Homo sapiens: one gene and its partner. The protein of the gene in region 1 interacts with the protein of each later gene in a pairwise test. Each region holds a gene or a part of one and is shown in the gene's direction. Other genes may lie near its edges.

Region 1 (3,500 bases):
ATCCTGCCACTGCACTCCAGCCTGGGTAACAGAGCAAGACTCCGTCTCAAAAAAAAAAAAAAAAAAATGTTGTTCAGTTTTGTGCTTTTCACCCCATTTCTTTTGCCTCTCTATGGTAAAAGGGGTTTTGTTTATCTGTTCTGTTTTAAGTGTTGTTGATCTCCCAGGCTCAAGTGATCCTCCCACCTCAGCCTCTCACGTAGTTGGGACTAAAGGCACGCACCACCACACCTGGCTAATTTTTATAAACTTATTTTCTTTTATTTTTTCGTGACGGAGTCTCGCTTTGTTGTCCAAGCTGGAGTACAGTTGCACAATCTCGGCTCACTGCAACCTCCGCCTCCCAGGTTCAAGCAATTCTCCTGCCTCAGCCTCCTGAGTAGCTGGGATTACAGGCATGCGCCACCATGCCAAGCTAATTTTTTATTTTTTAGTAGAGATGGAGTTTCACCATGTTGGTCAGGCTGGTCTTGAACTCCTGACCTCATGATCCGCCTGCCTTGGCCTCCCAAAGTGCTGGGATTACAGGCGTGAGCCACCGTGCCCGGCCTAATTTTTATAAATTTTTAGTAGAGATGAGGTCTTGCTATGTTACCCAGGCTGGTCTCAAATTCCTGAGCTCAAGTGATCCTCCTGTTTGGCCTCCCAAAGTGCTGGGGTTACAGGCATGAGCCACTGCACCTGGCTATTTTCGTCTTCTGTTCTTAGTTCAGCTTCTAGTTTGGGGAATGAGGTAGGTTATTTCCCTTGGTAATACTCTCTGCAGCCTTACTCTGATTGCTATTGGAGGTTCTGGAGAAGTTAGGTAACTCTCCTTACCTGCCTTACCATCCCCAAGAATATACTATACCCAGGGCAGAGAGTGTCGTCTTCTCTTAAATCTCTCTGAAGAAATATATCCATCTTATATTGGTATCCTGGCTGATTTCTGTATTGGAGAGTCTGTGGCACAGCTTGATGGTGAACTTACCATTGAAATAGATGCATAGGGAAATGTAAAGCATATATGATGTAGGTTTATGGACACATTGTGTCTAAATCTCATATAGGAGATAAAGGGAGGATGGGTGGTAACTTTTACTGGTGAGTTTCACTGAAAATCAGCTAAGTTGTTCTCCTACTTCTGTTTCCTTTTGTGTTCTCAGAACCTCAACCAGAACCCTCGGACTTTGCTGCCTAAATTCTATGGACTGTACTGTGTGCAGGCAGGTGGCAAGAACATTCGGATTGTGGTGATGAACAATCTTTTACCAAGATCGGTAAAAATGCATATCAAATATGACCTCAAAGGCTCAACCTACAAACGGCGGGCTTCCCAGAAAGAGCGAGAGAAGCCTCTTCCCACATTTAAAGACCTAGACTTCTTACAAGACATCCCTGATGGTCTTTTTTTGGATGCTGACATGTACAACGCTCTCTGTAAGACCCTGCAGCGTGACTGTTTGGTGAGTTTGTTACTTAGACATCAAAAATCTCAGTTACTAAAACAGCTTGATTGTTCTTAGGCATTAAGTTTGTGGGAGATGGAACTCTGTTCCTTAGCACTGTATGTCCTGGGCTGTATTTAAAATAAGTCTTAATTAGTTCATTGCCATTCCTTTACATTTTTACTTTCTCCCCGTTTATCCTCCCACAATGGGATTTATTTCCTTCTCTAGCTAGCCTGGGCCTCACAGTCAAATGTTCTGCTTATTTTCATACCAACATCATCCTTCCTCAGATTTTGGTCCTGGCTGCCAAATCCAAATTTATATTTTGGAAGCTGAGTGCTGCTGAAGAATATTACACAACCGTGTATACTGGCATCTACAGAATTATGATATCCAACCCCACTTGGGCTTTCAATATCGATCTTCAGTCCATTTGCTGTTGCTCTCAATAGGGATTTCAGATGTTTGGCATTCTAATCAAACCATTTTCTGACTCTCATCTCCCTAGCTTTGTTTCTCAACAAGCTACCTTAACTTTTTATCCTATTTCATCCTCTCATGCTGCCCCTGTCACCAATGGATAAATGTATCTACATTTTACTTTATTTTTTATTTTTTGAGATGGAGTTTCACTCTTGTCACCCAGGCTGGAGTGCAATGGCACGATCTCGGCTCACTGCAATTTCCACCTCCCAGATTCAAGCGATTCTCCTGCCTCAGCCTCCCAAGTAGCTGGGATTACAGGCGCCCATCACCACGCCTGGGTCGTTTTTGTATTTTTAGTAGTGACAGGGTTTCACCACGTTGGTCCCGCTGGTTTCAAACTCCTGACCTCAAATGATCTGCCTGCCTTGGCCTCCCAAAGTGCTAGGATTACAGGTGTGAGCCACCGCACCCGGCCTAGATATCACTCTTGACCTCTGTACTCTTCTGTCATGTGAACACTTCCCACTGTTGCACATATTAAACTGTATTGTGTTTATTTTACATTTGTATCCCTTTCTAAATGTATAATGTCCTTGAAGACAGAAACTCTCTCTTTAATATCTTTATATCTCTGTAAGGAGGCACAGTGCCTACATGGTGGAGATTCAGTAAATGTTTAACTGAATTGAAGCTAGTCATACAAGGTCCTACCACAGATCTGTTCTGTCACAAAGTGTACTTTACCAGAACCTCATTGTGGAATCTTCACAGCACAAATATGTATTCCTTGTTCTTTTGAGAAGGTAGTGTTCTCTTCATGGAGACATACATGGAAAGAACAAAGATGGTCTTGTGGGCTAGGCAGTGGGACTTGGAAAAATTATATTAACTCAAATGAGAGAAAGCTAAGGGTATGTAAATAAAGACTAACCAGGCCGGGCGTGGTGGCTCACGCCTGTAATCCCAGCACTTTGGGAGGCTGAGGCAGGCAGATCACCAGGTCAGGCGTTCGAGACCAGCCTGGCCAACATGGTGAAACCCCAACTCTACTAAAAATACAAAAATTAGCTGGGTGTGGTGGCACGTGCCTGTAATCCCAGCTACTTGGGAGGCTGAGGCAGGAAAATCGCTTGAACCAGGGAGTTGGAGGTTGCAGTGAGCCAAGATCGCGCCACTGTACTCCAGCCTGGCGACAAAGCAAGACTCCGTCTCAAAAAAAAAAAAAAAAAAATTTAGCCTTACAGGTTCACTGTAAGGCTAAATTAAATAATTACATCATGAAAGCTGTCAAGCCAGGCGTGGTGGCTCATACCAATAGTCCCAGCACTTTGGAAGACTGAGATAGGCAGATCCCTTGAGCCCAGAAATTAGAGACCAGCTGGGCAGCATGGTGAAACCGTCTCTATGAAAAATAAAAAATTAGGCAGGTGTAGTGGTGTGTGCCTGTAGTCCCAGCTACTTGGGAGGCTGAAGTAGGTGGATATTTTGAGCCTGGGAGGTTGCAGCTACAGTGAGCCGAGATCACACCACTGCACTCTAGCCTGGGTTACAGATTGATACCCTTTCTCAAAAAAACAAAAAAATTGTGAGATCCTGAAAAATATTTTTATTTCTTCCAAGGCTCAGATCATGTTTTTTTCCTTC
Region 2 (3,500 bases), on another chromosome or scaffold:
TTTGGAGCCACATAATCTCTGTCACAACTCAACTCTGTCATTGTAGCATGAAAGCAGTCATAGACAGTATGTAAATGAACGAGTGTAGCTGTGTTCCAATGAAACTTTGTTAACAAAACAGGTCCATAGTTTGCCATTGCCTGGTCTAGGCCTTTTAGATGCACCTTTTTAAAAAAAACCTTTATGGCCAAGTATGTTTAGGAAACAATACCTACCCCACTGACCTAGAATTTTGTGTAACTCTGTTTAACCCGGATTTTCCTAAATGTATTTGACAACCGTGTGCTTTTTTTAAAATGGGACATATACCCTGCAGGATAAATTATGGGAAATCTTGTGGGTTGCAAGTTTGTCAATTTCCACAAATGTTTGGCAAATTTTAGGTCTTATTTGAAAATGTTTGGCAGGCTTGGTGCCATCTCCATTCCCCAAATGGGAAGAGGGCTTGACTTGAGGCTCCAGAGGGTCAGTCTCAGACTCCCCTTTCTGAAAAAATAGAGACTCCTATATGGAGAGTTTGATGGTTATGGTTTGATGGTTTGAAAAGCTCCAGTAAAGCCTACTGCTGGATTTGCCTTGTTAGTTTCTTTCTTTCTTTCTTTCTTTCTTTTTTTAAGGAAATCATTTCGTTCATGCTAGTATTTTACATCTTTGGGATGCAGCAAACAGTATGGAGCAAAGTAGAGGGATGTTACAAGCACATTTTAGGAACTCCAGAACAAATATTCATGAGGCCTTTCCTCAGTTTGGAAGCCTTGACTTGCAGCCTATTTTTAAGCAGTTTTCTGAACTGAGACCCTCCTCTAATGTTATACTGTATAAGGCTCTCACTGATAAATTAATGCAAAATAGGCTTTTCTGCCCCCCTTCCACATCTGAGCCACAAGAGGAGTTTCCCTATTGCAGGGAGGTTAATAACCAGTAGCTCCTCCTTTGCAAATACCAAGAAATTTAAATTTTAGTTTGTTATTCTCCAGTTTATAACAGTCTCTTAATATGGCCCTACTGACTTTTCACTCATGAGGGTAGAACTGGATCCCTTGATGGTAAATTATTGAGAGCCTCTATTTTTTTTCAATGTTCAATACAATGAAGACAGTTGTGCTGGAGAATAGCTATTAAGAGGAAAAGGTTAAAATGAGTAATATTTACGTTTTAAAATAACAATGGTCTTGAAATAACATTTACTTACTTGCACTTAAATACGGAGACTACTACTACCAACACACATGGAAGAGAATAATTGGTATCCTTCACTATTCCTTGAAGAGCCCTAGATTTAGTGCCCATTTACTAGCCAGAAGTCAAGGGTTCAAACCTCTATGAACTTGTTTGCTCCCCTGCAAAACTGAAGTTTTAAAAATGTGCCTGTCCAGTGTCTGAGAATTGTCATGGAACTTCGTGATAATGTCACTAAGTCATTTTATAATCTGTTAAATTTCTTAAAAGTCAAACACGGCCGGGTGCGGCGGCTCACGCCAGTAATCCCAGCACTTTGGGAGGCCGAGGCGGGTGGATCACAAGGTCAGGGGATCGAGAACATCCTGGCTAACACGGTGAAACCCCGTCTCTACTAAAAATACAAAAAATTAGCTGGGCGTGGTGGTGGGCACCTGTAGTCCCAGCTACTCGGGAGGCTGAGGCAGGAGAATGGTGTGAACCCAGGAGGTGGAGCTTGCAGTGAGCCGAGATCGCTCCACTGCACTCCAGCCTGGGTGACAGACCGAGATGCCGTCTCAAAAAAAAAAATAATAAAAGTTTAACACATGACTGCTACTTCTTTGGGGGCATTAAATATTCTTAATACCATCAGAAATAAAGATAGACTCAAAAATCATCTTCATACCTGGAAATCTTAGTCTAGGGATGTTTTCTTGGGAATATTTTTACCAATTAAAAAAAAATTTGAACTCTTGCATGGGCAATTTAAAGGTCTGCAAATTGTGAATAAAGGAATAATAGTTGCGAATAATAACCTGAGAATTATGCAGATACGTGTGTGTTTTTTAGTAGCTTTTTGCTATCTAAAATTATGCTGTTAGTGAATATGATTGTGGTTTGTTCAATTCATACTAAATAGTATATGCCTTTCAGAGTCTGTGGAGATCTTTAAAAGTGCCAACTAAGGGCTGGGTGTGGTTGTTCACACTTGTAATCCCAACACTTTGGGGGGCCAAGGCGAGAGGATCACCTGAGGCCAGGAGTTCAAGACCAGTCTGGGCAACATAACCAGACTCCATCTCTACAAAATAAAAAAAGTAGCCAGGCATGGTGGCACAGCATGTAGTCCAAACTACTCAGGAGGCTGAGGTGGGAGGATTGCTTGAGCCCAGGAGTTCAAGGTTACAGTGAGCCATGATCCTGCCACTGTACTCCAGCCTGGGGTGACAGAGTGAGTCCCTATTAAAAAATAATAATAATAAATAAATAAATAAATAAATAAATAATAAAAACAGTGCTAACTAAAATACAAGCTACCACACACACTGTATCAGCCGATTTTTAAACAGAGTGTGGATGCCACGGGGCAGCTTTGCAGAATGGAATAAAATGGAGTGTAAAAAAGAGCTTGGAGACATGTTATGTGCTAAGAGGAGTGACTCTCTCCATGTTTCCTACAACGTGAATAGAAATAAAGTGTGAACTTCCATCTGACTACTTATTGGTGGGTTGATGAAGAAGCAGATTCATTTCTCTTCTTAGATTTTTTTTCCAAGTGAAGAATGATCTTTTTGGCATACTTCTCATCAAGCTCACCCCAAAACAAGAAACTAACTTAGGTAAATAGATTTAGTTTGCTCAGTCTTTTCCATTTTTGCCACAGAATCTTCCAATACATACATACACACACACAGCCTTTCTTTCAAACAATTGTTATCCTCAAGTAGTTCTGTTCTTCTTCTTTTCAAAATTTATAAGCACCTCGTTATAAGTAAAATGAGAAATGCATTGTAATGAAATGCAATGTAATGTTCAAAATAATTAGCATGCAAAATGCTGAAGAAAAATAGCAATCTGACAAGAAAATGCTACCAATGTATTGAGTTTGCTAAAAAGAGAATGAAAAATATCCTTTATTCTTCAGATTTTCTTATTTCAAAATATGGCCCTGTAAAAGAAAATAGATATCATCATTTAGGCTTGATACAATTAAGGTTATTTAAGATGAACAACAAAAACAACAACAACAAAAATAATTGAAGTTATTTGACGGAAAGGGTAAAATGGCTGAGTCCTATGGCAGCCTTTCCCTAGAAAGACAGTCTTCCATCTCTTCGAAAAGAGAAAAGGGAAGCTACATCTCTGTTTCCGTTAAGCCAGACACAGTCATGGTTAGAATCTCTATGAATTGGTGGACAATGTCATCTCTTTGCTTCTAACCATAGCTAAAGATAGTCAGCTTCTCAAAGACAGTCCCAAGTTGTCAATAAAATCTGGAGCCCATGGCCCTCTCATGGGTTTCCATCAGGACATGTAGTAGGGTCACCACTCACAGTTGG

What was found. Proteins that work in one complex are often made in the same cells at the same time.
Region 2: the proteins of PIP5K1A (region 1) and CADPS interact in a two-hybrid assay, tested with the Homo sapiens proteins (one large-scale study listed by IntAct).

Annotation. Positions count from the first base shown.
Region 1 is NC_000001.11:151,233,052-151,236,551, forward strand, and holds part of PIP5K1A (phosphatidylinositol 4-phosphate 5-kinase type-1 alpha), read left to right. Parts: intron 1-1,145; coding exon 1,146-1,445; intron 1,446-3,500. UniProt on the Homo sapiens protein: Catalyzes the phosphorylation of phosphatidylinositol 4-phosphate (PtdIns(4)P/PI4P) to form phosphatidylinositol 4,5-bisphosphate (PtdIns(4,5)P2/PIP2), a lipid second messenger that regulates several cellular processes such as signal transduction, vesicle trafficking, actin cytoskeleton dynamics, cell adhesion, and cell motility.
Region 2 is NC_000003.12:62,487,417-62,490,916, reverse strand, and holds part of CADPS (calcium-dependent secretion activator 1), read left to right. Parts: intron 1-3,500.